3 linked regions of the Homo sapiens genome follow. The protein of the gene in region 2 purifies or fractionates together with the protein of the main gene of each other region. This does not show direct contact. Each region holds a gene or a part of one and is shown on either strand. Other genes may lie near its edges.

Evidence for each region.
Region 1: the proteins of PAQR3 (region 2) and AGFG1 purify together in Homo sapiens (affinity purification with mass spectrometry; one large-scale study listed by BioGRID and IntAct). This does not show direct contact.
Region 3: the proteins of PAQR3 (region 2) and RMDN1 purify together in Homo sapiens (affinity purification with mass spectrometry; one large-scale study listed by BioGRID and IntAct). This does not show direct contact.

Annotation. Positions count from the first base shown.
Region 1 is NC_000002.12:227,534,492-227,538,390, reverse strand, and holds part of AGFG1 (arf-GAP domain and FG repeat-containing protein 1), read right to left. Parts: intron 3,547-3,899; coding exon 3,366-3,546; intron 1,767-3,365; coding exon 1,687-1,766; intron 1,491-1,686; coding exon 1,398-1,490; intron 1-1,397. UniProt on the Homo sapiens protein: Required for vesicle docking or fusion during acrosome biogenesis. May play a role in RNA trafficking or localization.
Region 2 is NC_000004.12:78,925,909-78,929,807, reverse strand, and holds part of PAQR3 (progestin and adipoQ receptor family member 3), read left to right. Parts: intron 1-3,089; coding exon 3,090-3,287; intron 3,288-3,899. UniProt on the Homo sapiens protein: Golgi-scaffold protein which modulates its interactors acitivies by anchoring them to the Golgi apparatus. Functions as a spatial regulator of RAF1 kinase by sequestrating it to the Golgi apparatus.
Region 3 is NC_000008.11:86,487,952-86,491,850, forward strand, and holds part of RMDN1 (regulator of microtubule dynamics protein 1), read right to left. Parts: intron 689-3,899; coding exon 601-688; intron 1-600.

The sequences.
Region 1 (3,899 bases), on a different chromosome or scaffold from region 2:
AAAAGAACAAAATTCAAAAGGCTTTCTTATGGTCAACCTGCAAGTAACTATAAATCAGAATTCGAACACAAGTTTGGCTGGCTGTACTCAAAATATGTTCAATTAACTTTTCTGGGCCTGTTCCCTCAGCTGTCACACAATTAAAATATTTATTTGATGACAGCTGAGTGGATTAAATGAGGCAATGTACAAAAACCCATTGTATCATGAGACATTTTACAAACTCAGTCCACAAAATCAAAACAGTATGCTAAGAAACAGAAACACTGCACATATCACACACCTGATAAATTGTACAAATGGAAATTTAAAACAATCATTCATTAGGTACACTTGAATTAAACTTTTTTTAAAGTTAAATTTTGTGTGAAATTCCAATACTTATCAAACATCTATTATGCTACTTACCAACAGAGTATAAGTGAAGACATTTATGTGAAAAGAAAATAGTTACAGCTCAAACTCCTAATACTGTGATTCTTAATCTTGTCAATGACAAAGAGATTTACTAAAAACTAGTAATTCTTAATGGTTTGATTAAAATGTTACAAGTACCTAATCTCTCAAGAGTTCATATCAACATTTGCTATAACTGGAGTTTAGGCTTTAGTTCTAAATTATTGTGACATATACACAAAAACAAAGCATACAAACTCTAGATTTAATGGATACCCAGCCATACCAAATGCACCTGCTGACATTCCAAGATACTGGCAAATATCTCTGGTGTTTAAGGTAATACGACAAAAATCAGAGGTATAACATGAGAAAGATGTGAATGGCTTACAGTATGAATCAAAAAATAAAATGGAGACAACAAAGAGAATTAAGGGAAAAAATTATCAAAAGAGAAAATATTCAGTATTATACCCACGACTGAATCAAGTTTCCACAACTTAAAAAATGTTAACACCTGAAAGAGATATTCACTAGAAAAAGACCTAATAATTAAGAATTCATGTAGTAAAGTCATCTGATGCAATCTCATAGGGAAAATAAAAACTTCTCATAAAATGGTTCCATTAAGACTGCATGAGTGACAACCAGTAATTCTGAAACCAGACCACCAAATACATCTAAATTGCTCTGTTCAAGTCCTATCTCTGTCATAAACGTTCTGTGGAGTCTCATCTCCATGTCTGGGCTTCCCTACCTGAAAAATGAAAGCTTTAACTGGAAAGGGCAGACACTAGATAATTTCTAAGGTCCCTCTCAACTGTTAAATTCCAGGATTTTATGAACTTTCAGCTAGAATTTGTCTTTATGGACAAACTCTTCTATCCATTGCCATTCACTTCACTAAGAAAGAGGCCCCATTTTCTGGTGTTCTTCACATGGTGTCTTTGTTGATAAATGTCTTCCCCAAAACTTACTGTTCCACTGTCTCTTTTTCTTACCTGTTGCTCCTCTGGCATTGGTCTGAAATGGGTTTGTAGAAGATGCCACAGAAGGACCAGCAGCAGCAACAAATGGATTTGTGGAAGGCGTAGCTTTAAAAAATTATAAAATACACTATAAAATCCTAATACATTTTGTATTTAAGATTTAAATTATTTCACTATATTTATCAAGACAGAAAACTCAAGGATTCTGATAACAAATCATTGCTTTGACTCCTAAGAAAATGCTACACAATATATATTTGGGTTCTTTGTAAAAACCAGTGTATATACCAGAAGCACATACCTCCAAATGGAGCAGGCACACTTGATGAAGCAGGCTGTGTCTGTGCAGAAGCAACCACTGGCACTGTTCCAAAAACATTGCTGAGAACAAATATTGAAAGAGTTCATTTTTTTTCTTAAAAAAAAAAGAAAGTAACGATTTACAGGGTAGCCATAAAATAATGAACATATCGTGTATCACAGCATCAGTATCAACACAAAGAAAATTAAGACATTTAAGTGTAAAGATGTAATAAAATAAACAATTGTTACTGCTTCATTAAGAATCATCATAAAAAAATAAAAAATACAAGTAAAACTGAATGTGTAGTGGGAAGGAATATGACTATTGTAACGACTAGTACAGTTTGGTGCCACTATCTTAATATTCATGTTAAAACACCAGCAAAAACCATTATTCTAAGCAAACTATATCACAAGGACAGAAAACCAAACACTGCATGTTTTCACTCATAGGTGTGAGTTGAACAACAAGAACAACACATGGACACAGGGTGGGAAACATCACACTTGGGGGCCTGTCGGGGGTGGGGGGCTGGGGGAGGGATAGCATTAGGAGAAATACCTAATGTAAATGATGAGTTGATGGGTGCAGCAAACCAACATGGCACATGTATACCTATGTAACAAACCTGCACGTTGTGCACATGTACCCTAGAACTTAAAGTATTAAAAAAAAATAAAAAGACACCAGCAAGTTTTACTTGCCATTGTTTTCACACCATCAATGCAAATATCAATTAATGAAAAGGTAAACAATCTCTCAGAATTATTATAAAGAAAGTTTTAACCTCACAGACCCCATGAAAGGGTCTCAGGTACCCCAAACATTCCATGGACCACAGTTTGTGAACCCCTGATGTACTGTAATGTAATATCAATAAATCATGTATTATATATAAAGTATGTTTCCAGACTTTATGTTTCCGGAAGTGTTACAATCCTAACATTTCTTTCTAGAAAAGATGCTAAAGGAAAATAAGCTACCAGGATAACTAAAGAAATTAGTAAATACAATCCACAGGATTGGAAAACAGAGATGAATAAAACATTGTTATAGGTAAATCTCTTGTATTTCTGAGACTATTTCCGCAACTCTAAAATAAAGACTAGAAAAGTTTTTTACAAGTGTAATGTCCTAAAATGTGTTAGACTTCCTACTGCCAAGAATTCTAACAGATATATATGAACATAACAGCAGATGTGCTTATTTGTAAATATGAGGATGACACTGAAGAGATACAGAATTGATTTTGGGCTTTGGTGCAAACACTTCTAAAAATCTGTATTTACAACTAAGCCTATAATATGGGACTTTCACTGTTTAATCATCATGACTAAAAACTATTTTTAAAGTATATTATTTGACTACTAAATGGATTCTCTGCTGAGTACAATCTGTAAGGAACTGTCCATTTTGAGATGTGTACATGCTCTCAAATACGGTTTAGTGTTCAAGGACAGAACATAACAAAACGTCTGATTCAATGAAAAGATAAAATTATGGCAATTATTCAAGGATTATATTTTAATTAGCATTTAAATTCAAATTCCTCAAATTTACAAAAATATCCAAGAATTTTAAAATTATACCTTGAAACAGTCATTTTTTAATTGATTATTCAAAGTTGGAAAAAAAAGATAAAACACAAAGCAGGAGGGCTAGCTAAGACAAGGTACCTGCTAGCATTACTTGTGGAAGTATACGCATTACTGGAGGTGGCTGCAGAACTGAAAACGCTGTCTAGTTCTGCCAGAGCTGCATACTTGTCTGAAGATGCACTTGACTGACTGGGAACTGAAACCACAGAACCAACAGGAGCTTTACCTGTGGTCCCAAAGCCACTTCCCTGATCACCACCTGGGAACGAACAAAATCAAGTTACACCAAAAATTTAAAGTTACACTTTCAACTTATCAACCACATTTGCCATGAAACACAGGTAAACTTAAAATGGATTTAGAGTTAAGCAGGATTCCAAATCATTAATCTAATAAATAACCTGGACCATACTGGACAGGATTAGTTGTTATACATACCACTGTGATAAAGACAGAATATGTCTCTTAACAAAAATTAACACTCTGTACCAAAAAAATTTGTCTGGATTATGCATAAGAAAGAAACTCTCAAGTGCTCTTACGTTAACATCTCCAAGACGGGTGGATCTTGTTCACATGAACATATAAATTCATATAATGCTAGACCTAATG
Region 2 (3,899 bases):
GTTAAAATTATGAAGTTGGTTACTGCTTACCATTTCTTTTTTCTCCTCTCAGTGAAAAAAAATACAGGAAAATATATCTGAATTTATTAGCCCATATTCTTCTGTAAAATATGTTTTCCTGTCTTCAGTCTTATGTTTGGGGGTAGGCTTGTAAGACAGACCAGATAGGAGTCAGTGTCTTTAACAAATGTGAGATGTGTCTTTTCTGAATTCTGGATCAACTCTGCTTTCTGTCACTAAGTTCACACAAAAGTCAGTTTTTGCCTTGTGCAAAGCAGCATTTGCAACACTGTAATCAGATAATACAGCACCTGACCTAAAAATATTGGCCAACCAAACCTTACGGAGTAGAACCCTTAACTCATCACCTCATGTTCCAGCCAAGAAGACAAATTCAATGTTCCCATGGTTTCAGTACATCTCAAGTTCTCCCTTTCAGAAAGTCCCCTTCGACCCTACTTTGTTTTCTTCCTGTTTTTCTACCATGCCCTTGTTTTTTCTTTTGCCCTTTTAGTTACCTCCCTTTCAGAACCAAGACTGAGCTTCTCCCTCAGGAGCAGTATACCTACTAGTTATTTCTAGTCCTAGTTACAAAGAATAGAGCCTGTCCTGCCCAAGGCCCACCATGTAACAGGTGCTCTAAGGAAGGGGTCACCAACCCCCAGAAGCTGTCCGTGGCCTGTTAGGAACCAGGCCATGCAGCAGGAGGTGAGCAGTGGGCCAGCGAGCCAGGGAAGTTTCATACGTATTTACAGCCACTCCCCATGGCTCGCGTTACCACCTGAGCTCTGCCTCCTGTCAGATCAGCAGCAGCGTTAGATTCTCACAGCAGCGCGAACCCTATTGTGAACTGCACATGCAAAGGATTTAGGTTGTGCAATGTAATGCTTGATGATCTGTCACTGTCTCCCATCACCCCCAGAGGGGGACCGTCTAGTTGCAGGAAAACAAGCCCAGGGCTCCCAGTGATTCTACATTATGGTGAGTTGTATAATTATTATATATTACAATGTAATAATAATAGAAATAAAGTGCACAATAAATGTAATGCACTTGAATTATCCCGAAACCATCTCTGCCTGCCTCCCCGCACCATGATCCATGGAAAAATTGTCTTCCACAAAACCAGTCCCTGGTGCCAGAAACGCTGGAGACCACTGCTCTAAGGCACAGTCCCCAGACTTCACTTATTGGGAAGATCGGCCGCAGTGTAGAATTTCTCACATTGCTTGGGATTTTTCAGTAGGACCTTTGTCTCTACACAATAACAGAGAATACTGTCAACATATCTGGTATGAAAATTAGTGAAGAGAAAAATCATAAATTTGATTTGAATACGTAAGAACATTATTAATTTTAGCCACTTAAACGCGAGCCATTTGCTTTTTGCTTTTTAGGCCTAATCACTTTGGAACATAAGCACATAATTAAAAATATATGCAGGTAACCTTGTTGTAAATTGACTTGATTTTAGCAGTATGCTATTTATTTCTGCCCAGCTTTCATAACTTACTCATTTTGCATGAAACTGTTTATATCTTTAAAAAAAATTAGAACATACTAATAACCAGGTGCTTGTGAGTACAGCCATGTAATATTTGAATTGTTTTGCTTATCTTATTCTGTATTTCTCTGAAACTGTTTTCTGTTTACCTCTTGCTAAATGTCAAAGTGAGATACTTTTTGTAAATCTCTTACCAGAAAAACTAAAAGTCCAAGATAGATTAAAAAGATAAGGGAACTGCTGAAGCTGATAGAGTCAGTCCATGATCGTTGAAAAATTGCTTTCTTCCATCTGGTTTCTAATCATTTTCAAACACTCAGTTGCTGTAGACCTATAAAAGACTCGTTTTACCTTTTAAGGAACACAGCTGCTTTCAGAATGAGATTGGAAACTGTGGACCCTAGATCCAGTAGAATGCACTTTTGCGCACACCCTAAACAGTCTGACATTTGATTTCAGAAAGTTAATAGCCCCAAAGAAGTCCTTGGAGCCCAGATTAAGAACTCTTGTCTTACGTGACTTTTGACTTTAAGACCAGCTAACTGCTTATTTAAATACCTGCATATCCCATAAGCCCTTCAAACCTAAGCGAAGTGTGTGTTCTTTCATGCCCCTGTTCTCTTCCCCCATCACACACACAGCAAAACTGGAACATCTTTGTTCATTTGCTTCATTAATAGAAGCCATTTATGTGGCCTTTCAGGCCAAAAACAGTCAGGCTTTCCTCTACTGCCCTCTCACACAGCCAGTCAGCCATTAAGACTTAAGCTTATTTCAAAAATGCCTCCTAAATCTGGTGCTCACATCTACTTTATTCAACAGGAGTCCAAGCCCCCACTCTCTCTTTGAATAAACTAAACTAGTATCTTTCTAGCTGGTTTCCTGTCACCTATTTTCTGCACTGATGTCAGAGTTGTCTTTCTAATAAGTCTGTTTGAAAGACAGCCATGTCATCCTATTCTTAAAGAATTCTGTTATTCCTCCAGTGCCAGTGTGGTAAAGTTCAAAACATTTAGCCTAACAGTATGCCTTTTTAGCCTTTTTTCTCAAAACTTCCTGCTGCATTTGCTGTTCTCTTTCCTTGAGAGCTCTGTCTTCCCACAAAATCTTAGATGTCATCTCTGTGAAGCATTTTTTAGCTACCCCAAGTAAAGTTAATTGTTCCCTCTTCTGTGGTTCTACAATGTTCTGTTCCTCAATTACGGTATCTACCATAAGATTATAATCTTTTGTTCACATTCTGCCCCTCCCATAGTCTGTGAGCTGACTGCTGGGAGAGTCCATGTCATAGTCATCTTTGCTTTTATAGGACTTGAACTGTGCCTGGCAGATAATAGGTAATCAGAAAATGCTTTTGTATGAATAAATGTAGTATTTTACCAGCTCACTTTAGAATTTGGTTTGTCATTCTGACAAACCTAAAAGTTGTATGGAACATATTTTTTAATGAAGGGAGATAATCCTATTTTGAAATGCAAATACCAAGTAAATAGACTTTGGAATTTGTAGTGTAAAAGCCAAAATTACTTTTTCAGTTCCTTTATTGTTAATAACAGAATTAAAATGTGATTTCCTTTCATTCTAGTACTGGCGTCAGGTGTACTTGATCACAGTGCTTGCTATGATCCTGGCAGTGTTCTTTGCGCAGATTCATCCCAATTACCTCACGCAGCAATGGCAAAGGCTCCGTTCTATCATCTTTTGTTCTGTTTCGGGATATGGAGTGATTCCTACTCTTCACTGGGTTTGGCTCAATGGAGGAATTGGTGCTCCTATTGTACAGGTAGGTTGAGTGTAGTTAATATTTTTCTCTTTTTTTTTTTCCTTTCAATTTTATTCCTTTTGGGTAAAGTAGTATAATCAGGCCAAGTGGGTAGATGTTTGTCATTTGAGAACATATTTGTAATTGCATGTTGATGCCGTAATTTTCACAGCCATATAAATAAGCATACCTTGCAGAAGTCGAGGTAAAATCTGAATACTGATTTTCTCTGAGTTGTCTTTCTGTAAAAAAAAATACATTATTATTCTCTATTACCCTTAGTATATAAATACCCAAGTCCTTATTTGTGGAGGAGGACTCCAAAGTTTCTAGCTTTGTCTGCGGGATCAGTGATAATGCCAATGATAACGCAAGTATAGAAATAGGAGCAGTTGATCTTTTAGGGGGTGAAGGGAGGTTGGGAAGGATTTTTTTTGTTGGACCCGATGAGTGTGGGGTACCCATTGGATGTAAAGGTAGAGATAGGATCTGGGATTTCAGCCAGAGTTTGAGACTGGCAATAAAGATTTGGAAATCATCATTGTATTGGTAGCTGGAGCCAGGGAAGCATGTTCAATCCACCAAGGAGAATATATTGAGAAATAAAAGAAGAGCTATTTGTTAGAATCAGGT
Region 3 (3,899 bases), on a different chromosome or scaffold from region 2:
GATTAGTGATCTAGAAATGCTATTTAGCCATATGACTTACTTCATAGGGTTGAGTCTTTCTCTCGCTCCACACTCCTCCCAAAAATGAGTACACACTGATATTCTACACTAAACATACAATCTAATAATAAAAATAGAAAAAGGGGGTATTTTTGGTTTCTCTGAAAGACTATCCTTCTAAAGTAATACACAGTTACCACTCAATGGTGGCATGCAACATCCTACATCTCAGTGAATTCATTTAATCTATACCAATAAAAAGTTACTTTAAAAGAAAAACAATGAGAAATATACAATATAGCTAGAAGGGATAAACATATATTCAATAACTATCTTGTATCATCTAAAGCAAAATGGAAAAATCAAAAAAAATTTCAACATTCCACTAAAGTAGTAACACCTTTTCTAAATCAATGAGATACATGCAGCATTTAACGTAAGAAACAAATAGTATATTATAAATTAAACTCTAAGAAATATTTTGAAGTAAAAACTACAATAATCAATTTTTAAAACCTCAAGCACTAAGGGTCATTTTAATTGTTAAATAACAAAAATTTTGAGGAAACCACAAGCCTAGGCCTATCCTACATTGCTTACCTTTCCTTGTATTGGGTTAGCAACTGATAAAGTTTTTCTGTTTCTCCGCTTTCATACAGGTAGTCTGCTTGTTCAAGTATTTCTTCAACTTCAAAGATTATAAAGGAAAAAAGACACAATAAAATAGGTCTTCCCAAGTCAGATGACAATAATTCAAAGAAACTTAAACACTTTTATATATAAGCAAATGAAATTAGATACAGAAATGACCTACAATGAAACAGCAGAAATTAGGAAGAACCTAGATGGAAACAAAGTAGAAATAAGCATAATGCTATCATAAAAAATGATTTATTGAAATCATGGGAAATAAAAAATTAGAAAACTTACTCTGGTAGTGACTAAATATGAAACACTAACAATAAATATAACACTAACGATAGCTGATGAGCTAAAAAAATTCCAAAAACTCTCATAATATTTTAAGAAAGTTTACTTATCTGTGTTGGGCCAGATTCAAAGCTGTCCTGGGCTCCATGTGGCCTAGGGGCCGCAGGTTGGACAAGCTTGCTCTACACAGTCTTTGTTGTTGCTGCTGTTAACTACCAACCATTGTAGAAAATAAAAGTCATCTACTTAAACAGCACTGAATGTTAGTAATTTGCATGAACCAAACCACACTGTTTTAATAAATTCTCTTTATACAGAGATGTTGTTCAAAGGGTCAGAGCTGTCATCAGAAATTTAGATGAAGCTAACTACACACTAAATCTGGAACTTACTGACACTATGCTCTGACTGACTCTTAAAACTAATTTATATATGACTACAAAATACATAAACATTATTGACAGTGTAGTGCCCTAAGAAAACTGTCTACTTAATGAAAAAAACAGTCTGAATTTCGGGAAATTCCAATTATTATTCAGAAACATGTACATTTAATTTTGTCTTCTATAAGGGTACTGTACTACTTAGTCCTAAGCCAAGATTCCAATGTGTATACACTTGGTATACTTTAATTAATCACAGTATACTTGAGGTTAAAAGGGTTTCTTGGCTGGGTGCGGTGGCTCACATCTGTAATCCTAGCACTTTGGGAGGCTGAGGTGGGAGGACCACCACGTCAGGAGATTGAGACCAGCCTAGCCAACATGGTGAAACCCCATCTCTACTAAAAATACAAAAATTAGCTGGGCGTGATGGCGTGCGCCTGTAATCCCAGCTACTTGGGAGGCTGAGGCAGAAGAATCGCTTGAACCCGGGAAGCAGAGGTTGCAGTGAGCCATGATCGCTCCACTGCACTCCAGCCTGGGCGATACAGCAAGACTCTGTCTCAAAAAAAAAAAGGGGGGGGATGGGGGTAGTTCTAGTTTTTAAAAAATTAGCAAAAAGAAAAATACAATGAAATTTGTGATGCAATCGTGTTTTTAAGTTAACATCATAATGTAATAATTATACTAGTTAAGAAATTAAATGACAATGGCAAAAAAAACCCCTAAAATTAAATAAAGATTATTTTTCTCAGTAATCCCACTTCATTCTGATTAGGTGTTATAAAGTTTAATAATATTCATATGGCTGGTTAATTTTTCAAATTTTGCTTCCACTCTATTCTATATTTTTATCGGATACGTGGCTGAATCACAAAGTTTGTGTTTTAACAACCCAAAGGATAAGGAGTAGTCTTTATTCTTTAGTTGATATTTATGGTAGGTAGAATAATGGCCCCCAAAGATGCCCCAATCTTAATCCCTGGAATCTGAATGTTTGGTTACATGTCAACGGTGAACTGTAGATAGAATTAAGGCTGCTAATCAGCTAATATTAAAACAGGAAATTATCCTGGATTACCCAGGTAGGCCCAATATAATTACAAGAGTCCTGAAAAGTGAAAGAGGAAGGCAAAAGTCAGAGAAGGAGTGTCAATGGAAACAAGATCAGAATGATGATTTGATGGTGGTTCTGAACATGGAGGAAGACACCTTCAGCCAAAGAATGCAGAAAGCCTACAGACACTGAAAAAAGCAAAGAAAGGGAATATTCCCTAGGGTCTCTGGAATGCAGCTCTCCCAATGCTGATTTTAGCCAGTCAGACCCATTTTTGGCTTCTGAACGGCAAGATACAGAACTAAAGAACCCTAAGATAATAAATTTGTGTTGTTTAAGTCACTGAGCTTGTCACAGCAGTGAAAGAAAATTAATATTAAATATATTGATCTGGCATATTTGAATGTGTACATAGTATGTATAAGTAAAAAAGTTACTTTTAAATATATTCATTGATTATTCTCTGACTTACTAAAAAGACTAATTACTGTCCTTAACATGATCCAGGAATTCTAAATCACATTACTCATGCGATTAAAAATGTAGAAATTGTCAGCCAGGCATGGCAGCTCACGCCTATACTCCCAACACTTTGGGAGGCTGAGGTGGAAGGATCACTTGACCCCAGAAGTTCAAGACCAGCTTGGGCAAGATGGCAAGACACCATATCTTTAAAAAAAAAAGTAGAAATTTAGTGAATAATCTAAATCTTTTTTGTGTGCATTCTTTTATAATCTCTCAAATAACTTAGCTCCAAATTACATAAATACTATAAGCTATAATATAATGGCTTTAAATATATATATAAATTTATTTATTTATTTATTTATTTGAGATGGAGTCTCACTCTGTCGTCAGGCTGGAGTGCAGCGGCACTATGTCGGCTCACTGCAACCTCTGCCTCCCAAGTTCAAGCGATTCTCCTGCCTCAGCCTCCTGAGTAGCTGAGACTACAGGTGCGCACCACCACGCCCAGCTAATTTTTTGTATTTTTAGTAGAGACAGGGTTTCACCATGTTGGCCAGGATGGCTTTGATGTCTTGACCTCGTGGTCTGCACTGCAAAAAATCAGTGTATGATTTTTTCTAAAATCAAACACTGTACAATTTATAAGAAAAAAGTACACTTCCTATGGTACTACAGACTGACATAGGCACTCGGGTGAGAGCTTGTAGACAACTCCACATATCCGCAAATCAGTTGTTTTCTAACCTAACATTTTATACTATCTTGAAAATATTTACAACTAAGTTACATTACTAACATAGAGACCATATTCTATAAAACAGACTAAACTTTTAATGTAAATTATTTTCAACTTAATAAGCAAATATTCTAAGATGAAATGACATGTTAATTCACCTAAAACTGTATAGTGAAATCTTAAATGTAACCTAAAATAGATATGTGCAAGATCATAATAATTAGAATTTTTTAAAGAAATGCCAATGATGTGACCTCCTACATATATGTTAGTAAACTTTGATTTTTTACTTTTCTAGCTGACTGTACTCTAGCCATGTGAGCAG